2 separate regions of the Homo sapiens genome follow, and region 1 is linked to region 2. Evidence: fine-mapped expression QTL. Tissue or cell type: blood mononuclear cells. Region 2 holds a variant in brackets; the other region holds the start of a gene. All regions are shown on one strand. Distances are from middle to middle.

The links. PIP is the estimated chance that this variant, and not a neighbour inherited with it, causes the effect.
Region 1: AAK1 starts here. The variant in region 2 is fine-mapped to the expression of AAK1 in blood mononuclear cells (TOPMed, PIP above 0.99).

What each region holds. Positions count from the first base shown.
Region 1 is chr2:69,639,555-69,647,319 of GRCh38, reverse strand. AAK1 (AP2 associated kinase 1) reads left to right here and starts at 3,581. Exons shown (of 22, transcript NM_014911.5): 1 at 3,581-3,745; 2 at 4,046-4,442. The coding sequence starts at 4,280. It also overlaps a transcript of ANXA4 not described here. RefSeq lists enhancers at 1,795-2,397, 3,153-3,422 and a silencer at 3,503-3,832.
Region 2 is chr2:69,730,378-69,738,142 of GRCh38, reverse strand. It overlaps a transcript of ANXA4 not described here. Among named protein-coding and RNA genes, the nearest start is that of ANXA4, 7.9 kb to the left of the region's middle. The variant A/G (reference allele first, on the strand shown) is at 4,435.

The sequences.
Region 1 (7,765 bases), 91 kb after region 2:
TAGTGTTAACTGAAGAATCCCAAGGTTTATAAATTTGGAGAGGGGAGCTTTACTTTTTATAAAGGGTTGCAGCCTGCAGGCTGGTGATCCTGACAGGCTGGGAAGTGTAGACTCTGGCAGAGACTGAAAGCAGGTATTTAGAGGGAGGAAAAAGTGGAACACAAATTTATGCCAAATGAGTTGGCTAAGAATACACACTTAAGTTACAGGAGCTTTGATTATTCACAAAGCGGGGGGCAGCACATGCATGCATAGTGAGCAAACATGCATGTTACATATGTCCTATGTTCTCTTTGGGGTGGAGATTTAACATTTAAATGCATTACAATTAGGTGAAGCAAAGGACATGAAGACACTCAGTGCACAGCCTCTGAAAACCAGCCAGAACCAGTCTGTGGTTGGTAGTCTCTTACTAGGATGTTACTGAAATCAGTCTCTTGTCCAATCAAAGAAATAGTTATGGTTTGTGGAACAGGGGTTGGGGGGATACAGTTAGTCAGCATCTAGTGGTCAGTGAGCTACAATTGATTCAATATTGCTTATCTCCAGGCCAGTGTCTATTTAGCTACCAGAGAAAAAGAAAAACCTTGTGGCAGTTAGAAGATGGTTTACTCTTCAAGTGTAGGGATGTGTGACTTAACCCTTGCCTGACACAGCCTTAGGTCTTGTTTATAATTTGGCATCTTATTGCCTCAAAGAGTCTGTTCCATCGGTCATATGATCACTATTGTAACAATAGTAAATGGCACTTTCTTTTCCCACTCCCTTTGACTATTTACCCATAGCATCTTCCACACCTAGTTCAAAATTCATCTAGGATACTTCAAATCAATCTTTCCACCTTAATCAGATAGCTCTGTTTTGTGTCACATTTAAAGTAAATTATTTACTTTAAGTACTGCTAAGAACACACTCTATGTAAACTATTATACTGGATGCCCAAGGAGATAAGTAGAAGATGGTTCTCTGGCTTTGAGGTGTTTGGTTGAGACAGCAATATACATTAAAAGTTGAACAGGAATGCAAAGCAGCATGGGACAAATTATACAGAAAGTGTGATAGTTTTGAGATTATAGTGGCTGATCTGTTCATTATTTTGTACTCAGGAACTAAAAAATTACTAAGAGTTGTAAGAGCTCTGGTTTTATAGCTGAGATAATAAGCCCAGTGACACAAGTGGTCTAGGATCCCAGCTATGAAGTGGCAAGAGGTTTCCTGTCTCCTGGTCCTATGCTGCTTGTGCGTGGGTTTCTAACTATTCACGAGTCTTTTAATCAGTTAATGTTTGCTCTCTCTAAGTAGACAGTTTAGTATAGCCAGGTAAGAACTGGGCTTTGAAACTAAAATGTTTGGGTTTGAATCCTGGCTTTGCTATTTACTGTGTGACTTTGGGCAAGTCACTAATCTCTTTGCTTTACTTACCCACCTATAAAATGAGTATAATAATGGTACTTTACTTCATAGGGTGGTTGTGAGCATTATATACTTAATATATGTAAAGCATGAAAAACTGTGGATTTGTCATTATAATTGCTATTAGTCTGTGAGGGAATGGAGGGCAAGGAATCTAGTCATGTTTTTTGTTTTTTAAACCTCTTCCCTCAGCTTCTGATCAGAGCATTCACGTGGGTGTTAAATAAATGCATGTTAGCTACCTTAAGCATATTGGGAGTTTTTGTATCACTGAAGTAAGACTTGAGATTTGTGTAAGCCTGGACTAGTCTGGTACCAGAGAAGTCTAGAAAGGTAAAAACTGAGATAGCATCAGATTGATTTTAGGACCTAGCACAGCTTGTTTAAAAAAGTCAGTCAAGACAAATAAGTGCTGAGAGAAATGGGGGTCAATGAGTCTAATTCCAAATGAGCTTTCTCATCTATTTTAAGATCTGCTTCAAACTTCCTCAGACAAAAATCTGGCCTTTTAAGGAAAGTGCAGAGAACATGCCTTCGTGGGCTTAGTTTGAGGGAATAGGGGCTGCATTTCACCCTGGAGGTGGCTACATGAATTCGTGAACTGAGGTGACAACACTGACTCTCTCCGGAAGAAAAGATGCTATCTCTTCACGGAGTTTAATTACAATGGCACTACTTGAAACAAGCTGCAGCAGCAGCAACAACAAACGCTACTGTTAACCCAGTCACAGCTCAGCTCAATATTCAGATTAGAGAAAGCAAGAACCATTTTTTTCCCTGGGACACCCTTCTCTACTCAAATACCCGCTGAAAAAAAAATTCTGAGACAAGCACTAGGGAGTGGGGAAAGCGGGCAGAGATGAACAATAACCCATATTCAGGGGTTAGAAAAATAATATTAATAAATCATGGTAGGTTTTTTTGTTTGTTTTTGGCAGCAACTTGCCACTCTTCAGCATCATCCATCAGGAAATCTAGGTCGGAAAAGTGTACCAACTGACCTTCCAAATTTTCTGCATTTGGCAGATGCAAATCACACAGTCCATCCCCGCCCTCAGCACTTGGACGGTATCAGGGAAACGTAAGTATCAATGGAAGAATCTTGAAGTGAAAAATAAATAACTGGTCAGGTTAGGGTTAGTGTTCTTGTGTGCAAGGGAGCTAGTGAAGTTTAGGCTTTGATGCGCACCCACAGCGTCAGCAAAGGAGGAGGAATTAAGGGACAGCATGGGCCGAAAAGCCCCCGAGTTTTGAGGTCAAGCCAACGGGCTGGGTCTCCGGTATCCTAGGATCTGCCCTGCACACAACCTTTGGCAGTTTCTCGGTTTGAATCTCGCCTGTACATTTCCAGACGAGACACTGTCTTACTGAGCGTTCTCACAGCGCCTAGCTCAGAGCTGACCGCAGAGCCGGCTCTCAATAACATCGAGACGCAAAAGCAGCTTTTGAGGTTAGGGGCGGAAGGGCATCGGTTTTACTTATTTCAAGGCTGGCGCTCGGTGCAGCCGGATCCAACTGCCAGCACAATGTTCCCGATCACTTCTCGCTTCCATTTCAGCCCAGGAGACGTCGGGAAACCCACAGGACCCGCTAGGGGCTAAGCGGTTAAGCCGCGTCCTTCAGGTGTCAGTCTCGATCCGTTCGGAAACCACAACCTCCAGAATCCCTTGTGCCAGGAGGCCAGGCCGCAAATAAGATGGCTCCAGAAGGGTGGAACATACAGCGGGGGGGGGGGGGGGGGAACTTAGTTGTTGGCAGTTTCTTCACGGGATGTGTTTAAATTGCCGAGTCCCCACATACGCGCCACCCCACAAATCTCCTTCGAGGCCGTGGAGGCCACACGGCTGCCGCCTCGCCCTCTCCTCCAGGAGTATGCTGGGATTTGTAGTCCAGCAGCCGGACTGTGCCGAGCTACCTTTCCCAGCTTGCCCTGCGGCTCGGGTGATATCAACAGTCTTTTCCAGAACTCTGTCTGCACTGAGACCCTCTTCCCCCAGTCCTCTTCTCGCGGTCGACTCCTTCCCATCCGTGGCGACAGAACGGCGGTTGCAGGAGAGGCCCCGGTCCCTCGCCGCGCCGCCCCGAGGGGCACTTCCGGCGGCGGTTCACTTCCTGGTTGGGTGGATGGAGCCGGGCGGGAGCGCGCGCGGGGGAGGGGCGGCGGGTCAGTCTCCGCCCGGCGCTCCCGGGATCAGCTGGCGGGCGGGCGGGAGCCGAGCGCGGCCCCGGCTCTCGCTGCAGCGCCGCCTCTTCTCTGCGTCGCAGGCCGGCCCGGCGGCCGTGACAATGTCGCGGGGCTGGTAGCAGGGCGCCGGCCGCCGAGCCGTCTCAAGTGGGTGCTGCCAGGATGCCGCCTCGAGGGGCGGCGGGGAGACCCGGGAGGAGCGGGAGGCAGTGCCCGGGAGGGTCGGCGCTGCCGGAGCAGCTCGGATCCCTCCTTTCTCCGAGCTCCCGGCTCGGGGGTCCCGGGTTCTGGGGCCGGGGTCGCGTTTTCAGCCCCACGGTTTTTCTCGCCGGGAAAATACATGAAGCGTTTCCCCAGGATGATGGCTTTTGCTCCCCCTAGGACTCAGCGGTTGAATTTTTAAGCGTGTTACTGATTCATCCTCTCTTTCTTCCTCTGTCATCACAGGTTTAAACTTACACGAATCGCTTTCTGGAGGAGGAGGGGACCCGCTGCGCGATTGACACGCATATTCCTATAGGCATCCTCCCTCAGCCCCCACCCCCACGGCCGGATTCGGGTGGCTCCTCTCCGAGGTGAAATCTGAGAAGAAATCCTTGGATCTCTTTTCTTAAAAAAAAAAAAAAAAAAAAAAAATCTAGAAACCATCGGTATTTTGCTTTGCTGCTCCCTATTCGCAAGATGAAGAAGTTTTTCGACTCCCGGCGAGAGCAGGGCGGCTCTGGCCTGGGCTCCGGCTCCAGCGGAGGAGGGGGCAGCACCTCGGGCCTGGGCAGTGGCTACATCGGAAGAGTCTTCGGCATCGGGCGACAGCAGGTCACAGTGGACGAGGTGTTGGCGGAAGGTACGGTGGGGCTCAATGCGCCGTAAATTAAAATCTTGTGCTGATGCGGCAATACTGTGGTTTCTAGTTGTTGCATGTATGAATGGGCTTTGACCAGTTGACCCTCCCTTCCCCCTTCACTTGCCCTGTGAGTCATTGTCCTTGAGAGATTTAAAATTGAGATTTGAAAGTGACTGGGCTTATGGGGGTGTGGGGAGGTTGCCGAAATTGTTTACGTTAGTGGCCTTTTATTTTTATTTTTTTAATATTGAGAAGCCAAATTTTGAGGATCACACAAGAAAACGTATGTGTGAAAGTGTAAAGCTTTATGCCAAAGGCAGGGTGATGGGCTTGTCATCCTCCTAAAACTTAAAATCTTGATGTGAAGGCTGAAGGGTGGGGGGACTTTTAAGAAGAGAGGGGTTTCTCCTTCTCCTACCCAACTTTCCCACTTCCATGAGCAGGCATTGGAAGGAAGAGAGGATTTTCGGAGAACGTGAACGTGTTTTTCCAAGGGCCAAGGCTCTTGGTGGATTTCACTAGTAGATTTGTTTCCTGACCCAACTGTAATCAGGTCCCCAGGTTATAGCAAAGATAACAGAAATTACATAAAACAAATGTGGTTATTTTGAACTCAGTCTAGTAGGCCCCTCTTCCTTCTCGCTTTAGGTTTTGTTTTTTGTTTTTTTAATCAAAAGAAAAATTACTTGAGAGTGGCTCTGATTTTGTTTTTTCGCTATCAGAGAGGATGTTATTTAGATCTGCTGCATAAATTCCCTCTGTGTTTCATCTGTGTGTCTATACTCACGTAGATATACATCTTGATTCCCCCAGGCTTTCGGGAAATCTTTGCATGTCTCTTTTGGTAACCTTAACCTCGACCTTCATAATTATGCCAGACTCATACTTTTCACAGCCCTTCGCCTGCCTAGTGTGCTTTTATTTTTAATAAAAGCAGCAATTTCCTTGGCATGAAGCAATTCAGACTGATTGGATGGGGCCAACCTGCTGTAGGTTGTGTTATAGACCGAGAGGGGTTGGAAGAAGGGAGAGGTCTCTCTTACTGCAACATGGTGATGGTAGGGAACAGTTTTATTAGCAAGGGAAGAGAGAAAGCTAAGAGGCCTCTTTAAAAAGGGGCCTTTTGCAAGCTAAAGTTGAAGCAAGGGTCCTGACCTGGGCCTGGGAAATGCTTACCATGGTGGATGTTGCGGGCTGGTGGGTGGGTTTGGAAGAGGAAGAAGCTGTGTTTGGCTCTCAGCTTGTGTAAGCACTGGATTCAGCAGGGCCCAGTTTTCTGGGAATAGAGTTGAAGTCTGTACTTTAAAAACATGATTTTTAAAAAAGATCTCTGACAGTTAATGTCCATGTGAAATTATTGCTCTTCCAATCTCAGTACTGTTCTAGCTGCGCTTTATCTGGGGCCAGAGTCACTGTCCCCTTGGATCTTTCCCGTGGACTTTGGTGCAGGCTAGGAGATGCTTCTGTGCCCGCTGCCAGATCCGCACCCTTGAGTCTGATCTGTCTCTTTCATCCCTGTGCCAAAGCCCTTAACTGCAGTGGGGTGGAGAAACAGTGAAAAGGAGAGTGTGTCAGAGAGAAATCAGGAGAAACGAAGGGCCACAGAACACTTTCCTCCCCTCTGAATGGCCTCTGCTGACCTTATAGCCCACGAGCGTTTTGTTCAGCTAGGATGTTGTCTCATCACGGATGATGCTGCCCTAAGCGGTGCATGTTCTCCAAGTGTGAGAGAAGTGATAGGGAAAAGAAAAGGCAAAATTGGTCTTTGTTACCTAGGCTGCCTTCCTCTTCTCTGGGATTCATCTTTGAGAACTGCGCATCACGTATTGTGATATTTTTACACAGAATTTAGGACTTGTAGCTCTGCATTTATTCATTCAACAGTTTATGGAGTTGCCTGTGAAGTGCCAGGTGCTGTGCTAGGCTCTGGGGGTATACTGTTAAACTAGATGCTAGCTTTTACCAACTGCTTTAAGAGATGGAAAATAGCCAGTTATAGTGGATTGGTAAATGCCATCATAGAGATAAACTTAGGGTGCAGTGGCCCCCAGTTTTAGGGAGCCCAGGATTTCTGAAGGAAGTGACTGAAGAGTGAGTAGGAGTTAGTGTGGTGGCACCATGGGCAAAGACAGAGTAGCGAGAGAGAATGTCACGTAAAACTGGGTCTGGCTATGCGCCCTTTTTGTGTTCTTTGGCTTAAGTTGAGTTTGAATTTGTGGCTCTTAGAAGTATGTAGATATGTAGGAGCCAGTATACAAAGTATTTATGTAGCACCTACCAAGTCCAAAGACCCTATGAAGTTCTGAGATGGATGAGGGAGGTCTATAGTGTGATTGACATCTGCCTTTAAGGATCTGCCAATGAATTTGGGAAGATGAGGCATACATTCACACATACAGTAGCATGGTTACCAGCACTGTCTGTAGAGTCAGACAGATCTAGGTTCAAATTCTGGATCTGTTCTTTACTAGCTGTGGAACTGTAGGCAAGACATTCCAAACCACTCTTGAATCTCTGTTTCCCTGTGGCAGTGGTTCTCAAAGTGGGGCATACTTATCACCTGCGAGCTTGTTGGAAATGGAGATTCTCAGGCCTCACTCTGTAGGCTGTGGGTGTGGGGCTTAATAAGTTCCTGGAGAGATTCTGACGCAAGGTCAAGTTTGAGAACCACTGCTTAATGGGCTGGTCATGAAGATTAAATGAGGCAATATATATAATTAACATTTTCAGGTGTTCAATAAATGGTAGCCATTACTTACCAGCAACGTTATACATCATATGTATATATGTGGGGGGGGAGAGAGAGAGAGAGAGAGAGAGAGAGTGTGTGTGTGTGTGTGTGTGTGTGTGTGTGTGTGTGTGTTAAAGGGGAGTGGGAGCAATGTGAAAGCTAGTTGAGCTGCAGCAATCTGAAGCAATTCCTTTCCCCCATTGTTAGGGGACAGAGCCAGATGTTCTTTGCAGAGTCCTCACCAGCTCCTTAAAGGCTTAACAGACGTTTTGGGTAGCCATGCTCCTTCCCTGGACTCTCTTCTCTGTGAGTCCCCGAGTGCTGACTTATCTACAGTTCTAGCCAGAGTTGTTTAAGGACCACAGGAGTTGTACCCTGTGTGCCCAGAGCGGTGGCTAGGCAGTTTAGGGAGGAGTGGTGTGAGAGGCTTCAAAACACAGACCAGATTACCACCACATTCCGCTGATGATCTCTTTTTCTCTAGCGTGGGTATTGGTCTGTGCTTTTTCATAAGGAATTGCAAGAACCCCAAGGAGCAGGTGCTGGGTAAGACAAAAAGATGTCGCACTGCCATACCTCCCCTGGTAGCATC
Region 2 (7,765 bases):
ACACTTAGTTAGATTTGATTTTCAGTTAAACACCAATTAATGTTTTACTAAAATATAAAATACTTATGTACTATAAGTATGTCCAAATATTGCATGAGACATACTTATACTAAAAATTATTCATTGTTTATCTAAAATTCAAATTTAACCAGATGTCCTGTCTTTTTTTTCTTTCTTTTTGTTGCTAAATCTGGCACACTTAAGTAAGAGCAGGCAGCTGAAGGTCATCACAATGTAGGGGAAGGATCTGACATTAAAAACAGAACCCAAAACATGCTAACAGGAAAAAAGAGAAAAGGAAGAAAAAGAGTATAGGGGGAGAAGAAAACTGAGAAATCTATTATTGATCTTCTCTGAGAAAGATCAAATAAAACAGAAAAGCTGGGTGCGATGACATGAGCCTGTAGTCCCTGCTGCTTGGTAGGCTGAGGCAGGAGGACAACTTGAGCCCAGGAGTTTGAGGCTATGACCACACCTGTGAACAGCCACTGCACTCTAGCCTGGGTGACATAGCGAGACACTATCTCAATAAGTAAATAAATAAATACCCTAAAAAAGGAACACTCATAGAACCAAACACAGCTCTTTTAAATTAAAAATCTGATAGCAAAAATAAAAAACTGAGTAGAATGTTAAGAAGATAAAGTTAGAAAATATCCTAGAATGCATAGACAGAAGGCAAAGAGAAGGGAAAGAAATAAGAAAGGATAAGAAGATTAGAAAGCCAGCCTTGGACATCTGGGAAACAGGGGAAGAAATGAATTAAATAATTCAATTATATATTTTGAGAACTAAAGAGCATGAATTTCCACATTGAAAGTGCTCACTGAGCATAGTGCAATGGACAAAACCAGAACCACACCAAGGCAACATTGTGATAAAACTTTAGAAGACTGAGGACATAGGGAAGATCTTACAAGTACCCAGGAGGAAATAAGGTTTCACATAAAGGATCCAGAATCGGAATGGCATCTGATTTCTCAGTAGCAACACATGAAACTGAAAGACAATGGAATAATGTCTTTAAAATGCTGAGAGTAGGCTGGGTGCAGTGGCTCACACCTGTAATCCCAGCACTCTGAGAGGCCAAGGTGAGTGGATCACTTGAGGACAGGAGTTCAAGACCAGCCTGGCCAACTTGTTGAAATCCCATCTCTACTAAAAAATACAAAAATTAGCCAAGCGTGGTGGTGGTCACCTGTAATCCCAGATACTCAGGAGGCTGAAGCATGAGAATCACTTGAACCTGGGAACTGGAGGTTTCAGTGAGCCAAGATGGCACCACTGCACTCCAACCTGAGTGATAGAGCGAGACTCTGTATCTAAATAAATTAAATAAATAAGTAAATAAAATGCTGAGAGAAAATTATTTCTAACATAGATTCTCATACACATACAAATTAGCAGTCAAATGTGGGGGTAAATATATTCCAGACACGTACAATTTCAAAATGTTTATCTCCCATGTACCTTTTCTTAAGAAGTTTTCAGATGGTGAAAGCTTTTCCACCTAAACAAGGACATAAACCAAGAAACTTTTTTCTAAAAAAAGGGAATAGCAGAATGAACAACTGAGAATTGAATGATGGGGAAGGGTAATTAGTTAATACTATAGTTACAGACTTCTAATTTTTCTTAACTATAGAGTACAGCTAACATTTACTTACTGTGTGCACTTACTATGTGCCAGTCAGTATTCTAGGTGCTTTAAATATATGATATTAATGATTTAATCCTCACACGGTTCGATGAGTTAGATACTCTCATAGAGTAGGTGTCAAGAAGTGTTACTATTAATGGTATACAATCATTTATTAATTCTACAAGTTGCATTAAACTTCCTGCTGCAGATTGTATTTTTCAGAATTGCAGCAACAATATGTTCAGTCCCATGTGCTCTTCCAAAAACCCTGCCCCCCACCTCAATCAAGAGGTGGCATCTAAGTCCTTTCCCCTTGAACCCAGGTAGGCTTCTTAGATGGGTTTCTGTGACTGCACAACCAAAGTAATGCTATGTGACTTTCAAAACTGGGTCTTAAAAGGAGACCTGGTCATCTAGCTCTAGGCATCGGTTAGCTCTCTTGCTCAGAACATGTGCCTTTGGAGTATATAAGTACAGCAGCCCTGAAACCACCATGTTGCAGAGATCATGTAAATAGAACCCATGAAAATAAAGAGTCAAGGAGCTTTGGCTGTTTCATGCCCCAGCAGTTTGAGTTTTCCCTGTCTCAGTGCCAGACATGTGACTAGGAAGCCTTCAAGGCCACTCCAGTATGATCGCTGTCTCATGGTAGCCAGTTGACACATTCTGAGTGGGAACTAACTAGCTGAGCCCAGTCAATCACCAGAATCATGAGAGATAATAATAAATGATTGTGATTGTTTCACACCCCTGAATTTTGAGTGTTATTTTTTGGAGCGATAGACAAGCAGAACACTGCCAGGTAAAATTGGGTTTTAGCCTAGACTTCTGAATCTCCTCTCTAAATACTCACTGAAATGGCCCAAGACATGCAAATAGGGGATTTTTTTTTTCCCAGAGTGGCAAGTCTCCCCTCTGATACTGCAGTTGAGTCCAAAGCTCATACTGCTTACTGCACAGCAGCCAACAAGTTGAGAGACAAGGTGTTGGGGCAAGGAAGATGACTTTGTTTCAGGGAGCCAGTAAACCAAGACGATGGTGGACTAGTGTTCTAAAGCACCCTAAGTCGATAGATTTTTAGGCTCCTTTTATGTTGGGGGAAAGGGGAACAGGGAAGGAGTTAAAGTCCAGAGGTGACTGGTGACCACAGACATCTGGGCATCAGCAGGGGTCCAAGGAGGTTGCACATCTTCTTTGTTCATAGTTAACTGCTTGTCAGATCCACCCTTTTCCTATAAATCTTTAAGATAGCATTGTTACTTGTGTATATACTTCCTTACCTCCTCAGAGGTCTGTTTCAAAAGACAGATAGTCATTAGTTCTACAGTTAAAATATAAAATAAATTCTTTCCATGATTAGCTTGGCCTACAGGCAGGAATGAGCAAAAGCAGTTAGCTTGTGAGGTTAGAAGCAAGATGGAGTCAGCTATGTTAGATTTCTTTCACTGTTACAATTCCCCAGTATCAAAGGTTCATTCCATAATCTTGTGGAGTTGGGGACAACAGGATGTTGTCTCTCATTTGGCTACTTTCAGTGGAACTGGGCAGGGTTGACAAGGGGTGACTGTGGAATGACACCTAGAAGGAACAAGTGAATGGGATTGTTTGAGATGTTGCTGAATACCCACTCATCAGTGAAGTTTGCTGGAATAAAACTGTGGGTACACTATACTCAAGTTGACACTACTAGAGGGCCCCTCCTATCTCAAAAACCGGAGAAACAAAGTGCTGGGATTACAGGTTTAAGCCACTGCACCCGGCTGGAAGATGACTTTTTTGGGGGGAACAAGCAAACTGAGAAAATGGTGGCCTAGTGTCCTAAAGAATCATCTTAAGTTCATGGATTTTTTTGGCTCCTTTTATGTTAGGGGAAGGGAGAACAGAGAGGGGTTAAGGTCTAGAGGTGACTGGTGACCACAGACATCTGGGCATCAGCAGGGCTCCAAGGAGGTTGCAAAACTTCTTTGTTCATGGTCAAATGCTTGTCAGGTCCACGTTATTGCTATAAATCGTCAAGACAGCATTGTTTAAATGTTGTGTGCATACTTCCTTATCTCCTCAGGGGTCTATTTCAAAACAGAGGTAATCATTAGTTCTACAGTTAAACTATAATCTAAATTCTTTCCATGATTAGCTTAGTCTACATGCAGGAATGCACGAAGGCAGTTAGCTTGTGAGGTCAGAAGCAAGATGGAGTCAGCTATGTTCGATTTCTCTCACTGTTACAATATTGGCAATGGTAGTCTCAGGAGGATGGCCAGGCCACGTCCAGTCTGGCTGCTGGCCAGTGAGGAGGAGAGACTAGAGGCCAGATAACCTTTGGCTCCTTGGGACAGTGGGTTAGCAAAGCCTTGAGAAGAAACTTTGCCAGGGTGACTTTCCTTGCCAGATGGCTTCCTCCACCATCCTTTCAAGCTGCTGGAAGGTACCCAACCCTGCAGCCTAGGATAATGAGAGGAAGATTCTAAGAGCATCAAAATAGACAGGCAGGGAGCCAAAAAGAATTAGCTCATTGATTCAGTAAGGCCAGATTAAAAAAAAAAAATAGCTCATCCCATATTGGAACAAATGCAAAGCATGGATAGAGTTTTCAACCTTCAAGGATGAGTAAGCATAAAAAATTATATAGAACTGTAAAAAAAATTCGGGAACATAAAAAACATAACACCTAAGAGGTCAAAGAAGAAAGTATTTTTTAAGTTTTACAGTATGAAGCAAAAGTAAATTTTAAACAGCTTCTGCTTTGTCTTTCATAGATTAAAACAGGCCAAAAATGGACAAATCTGAATATT[A/G]TTATTCATAAGGCAGAATTAATATTTATGAACTGGACTAGAGTTCACAGAAAACACCTTATTTTCTTTTCCTGTCTTTTCTTTTTTTTTTTTTTCTAAGACAGGGTTTCACTCTGTCACCCAGGCTGGAGTGCAGTGGTGCAATCACTGCTCACTGAAGTCTCAACTTCCTGTGCTTAAGTGATCCTCCTGGCTCAGCCTCCTGAGCTGGGCTCCTCAGCTGGGACCACAGGCATGCCCACCATGCCCACCTAATTTTTTCTATTTTTTGTAGATGGGGTCTCACTATATTGCCCAGATTGGTCTCAAACTCCTGGGCTCAGGTGATCCTCCAGCCTCAGTCTCCCAAAGTGTTGGGATTACAGGTGTGAGCCACCAGGCCCAGCCAAATTGCAGATTTTTACCAACAGTTTTCTGGTGTTAGATCTAAGATGACAGCTGTTATAGCAGATTAATAGCTTAACACCAATAATTCTTCATGTTTTATTTTCCAGTAAATCTTAAGACTAATTCAGATGTTAATTTTCATTAAGTAAATAAACATTTTGCCTCAATATCCCTAAAGATGAAAATTTACTCTATCTACAAGAACAAGCGTTTTTAATAATGCTTCATTTTACTATTAAAGGCTATTTTTTTCAGTTGTCTACTAAACATTTACAAAAACTGACAACATATTTATTTGCAAAGAAAACCTCACTAAATTCCAAAATAAAAATAGGAGTTTGAATCTCAACTTTACCATTTCCTAACTGGTGACCTTAAGAAAGTCACAGATCATGGTCTCCAAGGAAAAGGTGGCACCCACAGCTTGCTCCACATCCAACCTGGGCCTCTAAATAATGTATGGCATAGCAAGGTAACTGATAAGCAACATGACTTCGATCAGCACCGCTTCTTGACTAAGGTCCGCTTTTGGCACTGTAGTAATCTTTTTTTTTTCTTTTTTTGAGACAGAGTTTTGCTCTTATTGCCCAGGCTGGAGTGCAATGGTGCGATCTCAGCTCACTGCAACCTCCGCCTCCTGGGTTCATGTGATTCTCCTACCTCAGCCTCCAGAGTAGCTGGGATTACAGGCATGCACCACCACGCCCAACTAATTTTTTATTTTTAGTAGAGACGGGGCTTCTCCATGTTGGTCAGGCTGGCCTCGAACTCCCGACCTCAGGTGATCCGCCTGCCTTGGCCTCCCAAAGTGCTGGGATTACAGGCGTGAGCCACCACGCCCAGCCAACACTGTAATACTCTTTACTCGATGAACTCTACTGCTGTTTGGGAAGAGGTATTGCCCAGTTTATATCACTTCTAGATATCAGATATTAGATATTCTCAGAACTTCTCGTTTACCTGATCTACAGACACAGCGAGCGACACCCACAACCCCACTCCCATCAAGGGTAAAATCTAATATTCTACAGAACACATAACTAAGGGCTGGGCGCGGTGGCTCACGCCTGTAATCCCAGCACTTTGGGAGGCCGAGGCGGCCGGATCACGAGGTCAGGAGATTGAGACCATCCTGGCTAACACGGTGAAACCCCATCTTTACTAAAAATACAAAAAATTAGCCGGGCGTGGTGGCGGGCGCCTGTAGTCCCAGCTACTCAGGAGGCTGAGGCAGGAGAATGGCATGAACCCAGGAGGAGTTTGCAGTGAGTCGAGATCGTGCCACTGCACTCCAGCCTGGGCGACAGAGCCAGACTCCATCTCAAAAAAAAAAAAAAAAAAGAAAGAAAAGAAAATGTAACTAAGAAATAGCATCAGCATTTGGTATTTCTGTTTTTTCCTGCCCCAAAGGAGCGACACCCTTTCTTTCCTTCCCCAAAACCTGTTTTCCTTGCCATGAACTGCTGCAGCTCAACAAAAAGAGAAACCTTATTTGACCACAGGGAGGTTCATCATTTGCATCATATCAGTATAAAGTTCAGCATAGTTTGACAGTCAAATAATGCATTTGCAGATCATTGCTTCCAAGGAAGTGTCCTACCCCACCCTTTACTCAGATGCATGACAGCTGACAAGGAAGCCTTTTTTAATTCAATTATTGGCTTTTTAAAAAACATCTGCTTTTTGAGGTTGTGCCCTTCTGCTGCTGAGCCGCAGCTCATATTCAAGCGTCATCAAACCAAGCCATCATTATGAAAATAAGCTCTGATCATAGGGGTCAACATGGTCTCATTTGTTTTCACAAATACTCTAGGTGGATGTGGATTGCGCTGAAGTGACTGCAGTTAAGTTGGCTATTTTCAAAAACAAAGCAGCTGCAAATAGTCCAGGGCGAGAGTCAGCATCATCACTCAGCTCTTTCATACAGGTTTTTGTAGTAGAGCTTTCAGCTTGAGCTAAGTTTGTGGCCACTGCTAAGTTCGAGCAAGTCTGGGTAGGTCTGGCAGATGGATAGAAAAGTCCACTAGAGGTCTGAGAAGCCTCATGCAAGAAGGGAAGGGAGCCAGTTGTGCTGAAGTTAATTAACAAAGACCCAGTCATTGCAGGAGACTCCAGACCCCAAGAATAAAACTAGGACCCAGCCTCCAGGAAATAAGTCTCAAACATTGAGTGGGATGGAACCAGGCCCTATGTTGTTACCTTCTGCATCCTGGTAGACACAGGGAGGCCTACTGGTGACTACAACAAACTCATGAATTTTAATATAAATAGTGACATCGTGGCTTTTGGCTTCTTGAGGCCAGCACTCCTCAGGGCCAGCACTTCAAACCCATCGACCTAAAAGGCAGGTTTGGGGAACTGTTGGTGGAGACATAATTTTGCCTTACCCAGCAGCACTTCCCTGTCATCACTACTGGATGGAGAAAGCGAATATATGACATTAGTAGTGCCTCCTCCCGTTCCTACATTGGCAGTAGGCCTTGCTAATGGGTCATTATCAAGCAATCCCTAAGCAGCAGAGATTACTGCAGCTGTTAGGTCAATTTACCAATCTTCCATAGATTCAACCAGTAAGGAGAAAACACACCCAAACAGATTTAGACAGTTTCTTACAGTGCAGCTGGCAGCATGAGCAGCATGTTTACGTAGGTTCTCTTTTACCTCCAAGTCGCATAGGGGCCATGTGGAGGCAGGCCCAGGTGGATACTGAGCAGACAGTGGGTCTATGTCACAGCTGAAGAACATTGAACCTCAGAAACCCCCATCTTAGAAGGAGACTGCTCACAAATTTGCTTATCCTCCTGGATGTTGTTGTTGTTAAGACTGAATTTCATTCTTGTCGCCCAGGCTGGAGTGCAATGGTACAATCTCGGCTCACTGTAACCTCTGCCTCCCAGGTTCAAGCAATTCTCCTGCCTCAACCTCCCAAATAGCTGGGATTATA